Homo sapiens: one gene and its partner. The protein of the gene in region 2 purifies or fractionates together with the protein of the main gene of each other region. This does not show direct contact. Each region holds a gene or a part of one and is shown on either strand. Other genes may lie near its edges.

What was found. Proteins that work in one complex are often made in the same cells at the same time.
Region 1: the proteins of PMM2 (region 2) and GAB2 purify together in Homo sapiens (co-immunoprecipitation; one large-scale study listed by IntAct). This does not show direct contact.

Annotation. Positions count from the first base shown.
Region 1 is NC_000011.10:78,407,821-78,411,320, reverse strand, and holds part of GAB2 (GRB2-associated-binding protein 2), read left to right. Parts: intron 1-3,500. UniProt on the Homo sapiens protein: Adapter protein which acts downstream of several membrane receptors including cytokine, antigen, hormone, cell matrix and growth factor receptors to regulate multiple signaling pathways.
Region 2 is NC_000016.10:8,846,332-8,849,825, reverse strand, and holds the end of PMM2 (phosphomannomutase 2), read right to left. Parts: intron 2,103-3,494; coding exon 2,001-2,102; 3' UTR 501-2,000; downstream 1-500. UniProt on the Homo sapiens protein: Involved in the synthesis of the GDP-mannose and dolichol-phosphate-mannose required for a number of critical mannosyl transfer reactions.

The DNA.
Region 1 (3,500 bases), on a different chromosome or scaffold from region 2:
TGAGATTTTAATAGGAAGTGCATTAATCCTGTGTACCAATTTGGGAAGAAATTACAGCTTTACTATATTAAATCTTCCAGTCCATGAATTTATTTTACATTTATTTATATATGTCTTTCTTCCTTCGTTTATTTTCTTCTCCTTCCACCATCCCCCCCCCCAACCACCCCCACCAGAATCTTGCTGTGTCACACAGGCTGGCGACAGTGGCACAATCATGGCTCACTGCAGCCTCAAATTCCTGGGCTCAGGTGATCCTACTGTCTCAGCCTCCCAAGTAATTGGGACGACAGCTGCGTACTGCTGTGCCTGGCTAATTTTTTTTTTTATTATTTGTAGAGACAGGGTCTCCCTGCGTTGCCCAGGCTGGTCTCACACTCCGGAGCTTAAGCAGTCCTCCCACCTTGGCTTCCCAGAGTGCTGCGATTATAGGTGTGAACCACCATGTCTAGCCTTCTGGAAGAGATGGTGTAGAACTGGTATAATTCTTTAAACCTTTGGTAGAATTCTCCAGATTAAACCATCTGGATCTGGAAATGTCTTTGTTAGGAATTTTTTACATTTTTAATCCAATTTCTTTAATAGATACGGGGTTCTTCAAATTATCTACTTCATATTGGCTGAATTATAGAAGTTTACATTTTTCAACAAATTGGTCCATTTTGTCTAAGTTGTTACATACATGTGAGTGGAGTTACAGTATCCTGTATTATGCTTTCAGTGTCTGCAGGGTCTGTAGTGGGTCCACTGCTTTATTTTTTTAACCCTTATTCTTGCATACTGACATTGCTTCATTATTATTTTTTGTTTGTTTTTTGAGACAGCATGTCACTCTGTCACCTGGGGTGGAGTGCAATGGCACGATCTCAGCTCACTACAACCTCCACCTCCCAGGTTCCAGCAGTTCTCCTGCCTCAGCCTCCCGAGCAGCTGGGATTGCAGGCATGTGCCACAATGCCCAGCTGATTTTTGTATTTTTAGTAGAGACAGGGTTTCACCATATTGGCCAGGCTGGTCTCAAACTCCTGACCTTAAGTGATCTGCCTGCTTTGGCCTCCCAAAGTGCTGCAATTACAGGCATGAGCCGCTGCACCTGGCCTCTGATTTTTTTATATAGTAGTTTATTCATTTGAGACTTTTCCTCTTATTTAATGTATTCATTTACTGCTATGAATTTCCCTCTCAGCACTGCTTTAGCTGTGTCCCACTAATTTTGATAAATTGCATTTTCAATTTTTATTTGCTCAGTATATATATATTTTTTTTACTTTCCTTGAGACTTTCCTCTTTGACCATGGATTATTTACAAGTACATTGTTTAGTTTCCAAATGTTTGGAGATTTTCCCATTATTTTTCTGTTTCTGTCTTTTAGTTGGAATTCATTGTGGGAGTAGAGTAAGTTCTATTTGATTTCAATTATTTTTAACTTGTCAAGGTTTATTTTATTGCTGAAAATGTGGTCTATCTTGCTTTAGGTTCCATGGGTACTTTGAAAAGAATGTTTATTCTGCTATTATTGGGTAAAGTATTCCATAAATGTCAATTATATCTTTTTGATTGATAGTGATATATATAATTCTTTTATATCCTTGCTGATTTTTCTATCTAGTTCTTCTGTCGATTGTTGAGAGACAGGGGTTGAAGTTTCCAACTATAATTGTGAATATTTCTGTTTCTCATTTCACTTATATCTGTTTTTGTTTCACATATTTTATTTTTTTTATTATTTTTTTGGAGATGGAGTTCCGCTGTTGTTGCCCAGGCTGGAGGTGCAATAGCATGATCTCAGCTCTCCGCAACCTCCACCTCCTGGGTGCAAGCAATTCTCCTGCCTCAGCCTCCCAAGTAGTTGGGATTACAGGCATGCGCCACCACACCCGGCTAATTTTGTATTTTTAATAGAGACAGGGTTTCTCCATGTTGGCCAGACTGGTCTCGAACTCCTGACCTCAGGTCATCCGCCTGCCTCGGCCTCCCAAAGTGCTGGGATTACAGACATGAGCCACCGCACCCAGCCCTGTTGTTCAATATATACACATTTAGAATTGCAACATCTTCTTGGTGGCATGACCCTTTTATCTTTATATAATACCTGCTGAGTCTCTGGTAATTTCTTTTGCTCTGAGGTCTACTTGTTATCTGATATATTATACAAGTATCTGAGGGCTACTTGATATATTATAGCCTATATCTGATGATATAGTTATTCTTGCTTTCCTTTTATTGATATTCACATGATACATCTTTTCCATCAATTTACTTTCAACCTACCCATATCATTGTATTTGAAGTGATATCTTATAGGTGGCATATTGTTGGGGTGTATTAATCCGTTCTCGCACTGCTGTAAAGAACTACCTGAGACTGGGTAATTTATCAAGAAAAGAGGTTTAATTGGCCCACAGTTCCACAAGCTGTACAGGAAGCATGGCTGGGGAGGCCTCAGGAAACTTACAGTCATGGCGGAAGGTGAGGGAGAAGCAGGCACATCTTACATGGCTGGAGCAGGAGGAAGAGAGTGAGGGGAGAGGTACTACACACTTCTAAATAACCAGATCTCACAATAACTCACTCACTATCATGAGAACAGCACCAAAGGGGAACTCCACCTCCATAATCCAATCATTTCCCATCAGGCCCCACCTCCAATATTTGGGGATGACAATTTGACCTCAGATTTGGGCAGGGACACATACCCAAACCATATCATGGGGCATGTTTTTAATCCACTGTGCTGATTTATGTCTTAATTGGTATATTTAAATTTACACTTAATATAATTTCTAATATGCTAGAGCTTAGTTCTGCCACTTTATTTTTTGTTTGTGTTCTGTTTTTGTTTTCTTCTTGCCTTCCTGTGAGTTTCTTGAATATTTTTTAGAATTCCATTTTGATTTATCTATATAGTGTTTTTGAGTGTATCTCTCTATACAGCTTTTTTAGTGGTTGCTCTAGGTATTATACTGTACATACAACAGTCAGTTGGTGTCGTCTTATAATCTAAATGAAGTCTGTATCATCATTTTACAAGTTTAAGTAAAGTATAGTAACCTTACCTCCCTTTATGTCCTTTTGCCATCCTCCATATATAATTGTCTTAAATATTTTTTTTATATCAGACAGTGCTATAATTTTTGCTTCAGTCATTAAACCTAATTTAGAAAACTCAGAAGGAAAGACTATTTAATTACATTTTTGTTTACTATGTGCTTTCTTCTTTGCTGATGTTTTCAGGTTCCTCTTTTTTTCATTTCCTTTCTGTTTAGAGAACTTCCTTTAGCCATTCTTTAGGGTAGATTGGCCAGTGATAAATTGTCTTTATTTTCCTTCACCTGAGAAGGTCTCATTTTCCCCTTCATTCTGATATTTTCACTGGATATTGAATTATTTAGTTGACACTTCTTTTCTTTGAGCACCTGTAAAATACTGCATCCTTTCCTTCTGGCCTGCATGGTTTCTAATGAAAAATCCATGGTCTTTCCAATTGCTTTCCCTCAGG
Region 2 (3,494 bases):
GAAGGTGGAAGGGGAGTGTCAATTCTGACTGCAGAAGGGAGGCAGCAGACAGTGCAGGAGGGGCTCGAGGGGCCTGGGGAGGGTCTCAAGCAGCCACTGTGGGAACTGGGGCAGGGACGGCCCAAACCTCCGCGCATCAGCACCCAGCCTGGCAGACTCGGGGTACTCACCTGAGGGCAGCCCTGTGCAGGCGGTGACACAGCAGCAACCCTCCATCTCCGGTTAAAACAAGTTTGAGTAAGACTCGGTTGTCTCGCTTTGACGCAATACGTTAAGGAAACTTGTAAAGAATGGCAGATCCTGACCCAGTGGGCAGAAAAGCAGCGGGGGAGGAGTCTGTGCATCAGGAACAGCAACATGCAACTCCGCAGAGGGAGGGGCCCCCGATGTGACAGAAATCCAGAGTAAAGAAAGAGTGGCTCTCAGACCTGGAAGGGCTGGGGTTCCATTCCAGAATCTGGGAACATAGGAGGAAAAAGAAATCGGAATGAGAAACAGGAAACAATAAAATCACTTTAATGTGCTACTCTTCACTTTGGAAGGTCATTACAGTATCATTCGACAAGGAAAGATGCCGCTGGATGGCTGTGTCCTGTGAGTCACTGGGATGAGCTGGCTGCTTTCACCCCACCGGATCCGGGGCTCAGACAGTTACAAGCCCGAGTGGCTGGGAGGTTTGGAGGGAACCAGGTTTAGCTGTGATGAAAGCACCTGGCTGTGGGCTGGGAGGCAGGAGTGCAGGGCAGCCTGGGCTCCCCTGGCCCCAGACTCAGGTCGGCAAGTGCCCAGTGGAGGCCACACAACCCCAGCACCAAGCAATGGAGGGTGTATGGCTCAGTGTTTCCACATCCTGAAAAGTGACACATGAACCGTTTCCTAGGAAAGTTCTCTTCCACCGTGTTCTAGCTGAGACCCGGGATCCTTCCAGTTTCACGAAGAACGTGCAGAAGATGAAAAGAGTGAGGGACGCGGACCTAGCTGTAGCTGCACTCAGCCGCCTCCGTGGTAAAGTCTGGGTGAAGGCCTGGGTGAGTGCAGATAGGAGAGCAGCTCCTCTTACTGTTCTCTGGCTGGGCTCTCGCTCCATCCCTGAGAAACTAGAGGCGAACGCCTCCAGGAAGCCAGCCAGGGGCAACCAGAAAGTCCTTTTGGTGAAGTCTGACATCCCGCGTTGGTTTCTCTGGACCTGGGTAAGAACCGGCCCCAGGGCAAGGACTGTTTTGCCAGCACCAACTCTCCAGCCCAGCTGTTGGTTCCCACTACCTCCGGTCTCGGAGACAGAGAAGCAGCCAGGCTATTCTGAGTGTAGTGAACACAGAGCCGGTCCGAATCCGGCCCAGCCGAGGTGCAAACTCCCTAGGGTCTGCTCCCACTTGGCCAGCCATCTGTCCAGCAGGCCTCAGCCCCAAACACGGGAAAACGCAGAGTGCGTCTAGTCACTGGGTATCACACTGCCCCACTCACAGCCCCCATCAAGGTGACATGCAGGCGGGAGCTTCGTTCCAGGAGGTGTTTGTAAACTTCGTCCTGGGCTGGGTCACTGCAGATGGCCTGTCCTGGTTTCTCATTACCAAACCCCCATGTTTGGTATTGATGCAGGGGCCCATTAAAAAAACCGCTTATGTTTCCACAGACCCACCAAGAGGGAGGGTCCAGGCACAGTTTTTCTTTCTGTATCATCCTAGAATGATGGGGAAATTTCCGCCAAAACTACATGATTGCACGTATCAGGGTGGGTATTAGACTAGGGGGCTGGGGGTGGGTGGGGAAGACCTTTTGTGCGAGGCATTCCTCTGGGCCATTCTTGACAAGAGTTTTCTCCTTCCTTCTGGAAGTTTCTGGCACTGGAGGTGGAAGTCCAGACTGCACATGCCTGGCATAGCATGCAGAGCCTGCCTAGGCTGCGGGTGGGTGAGCACGTGTGGGAGGACCCTCGGCTCTGGCCACCGAATGCCCTATGCTGGCTTGTCAGCCGGGACCCCGCCCCTCCCGCTCCCACGTTAGGAGAACAGCAGTTCACAGATCCTGCGCGTGTCCTCAGGCGCTGTCACGGAGTAGCCCATGGTTCTGGGGTCTGTGAAGATCTCATGGTCATTGCCACCCTGGAAAGACACGAAGTACAGATGAAGGCTCCCCCTCGTCTGTCCCGGGCCATTGCTGATGTGACCCTGGAGTCCAAAAGTACCCAAAAAACAAGATTTAACTGGGCAGGGAGAGTTTCTTCAGCTACCTTCCTCTTAGTTTCCAGGAGAGGAACGTGAGTACAATTGTTATTAAGAAGAGATTTATAACCTTCTCTTGAACTGCAATTTGGCTTGGAACACGTAATTATGCCTATGAGAGCCATCACGATGTTCTTGCGAAGATCTGTCTAAGGCTTATTTTTCTACACAGAAGGCATCAGCGAGTGACAGTATTCTCACAGCCATCAGTTTTTTTTTTTTTTTTAGCTGTACCTACGCTTTTCTAACAAGTCACAAGGGAGCGTCAGGAGGGCAGAGGGCCGGGAGCAGGGCTGCCAGGGATATTCCTGTGATGAGGGACGTGGCGACATCAGCGGTGATGGCAGCCACTGGCCATGTGTCACTCTGCACACTTGAAACGTGGCCAATGCAATGGAGGAACTCAGTTAATTTGATTTTAATTTAAACAGCCCCACGTGGGCCGGGCATGGTGGCTCATGCCTGTAATCCCAGCACTTTGGGAGGCTGAGAAGGGTGGATCACTTGAGGTCAGGAATTTGAGACCAACCTGGCTAACACAGCAAAACTCCATTTCTACTTAAAATACAAAAATTAGCTGGGCATGGTGGCGCACGTCTGAAATCCCAGCTGCTCGGGAGGCTGAGGCAGGAGAATTGCTTGAACTCGGGAGGTGGAAGTTGCAGTAAGCCGAGATCGCACCACTGCACTCCAGCCTGGGCGACAAAGGGAGACTCTATCTTAAATAAATAAATAAATGGCCCCACATGACTGGGGTCTGAGCTGCTGGCTAAAAGCAGGGTCTCTGGAACAGGTGGCCTGGGTCAGATGCTGGTTCTACCACTGAGCAGCAGTGTGGCTGCGCCAACTCCCCATCTCCAAAATGGGGTCATGATGGAAGCTTGCTCACAGCTCTGTGGCCAGAAGTTCAGGAGATGATGGTTGGGGTCACACCTTGGTAAGATGACGAAACCGAGGCCTCAGAAAGTCTGCAAGGGCCCATGTCTAGGAGGACCTGGGCATGTTCTGCTGGGGTCCTGTGCCTGAGTTGAGTGCTCCCATCTGTGTCCCCATCACCCCCACCAATCCCACTGGGCTCACGTTAATGAATCAGGTTATCTGCCGCTCCCGCAACCCCGAGCCCTGCAGGAAAGCCCCCGTTTTTCTCATGGAATTCCTTTATTTCCCTCATAAAATTGGATAATCACTCTAACTCAAAACCTTAAAATAATCTACGATTGCTTTACAATACAATGAACACAACCGTAGAAAAAAGGGATTTTTCTCATAAAG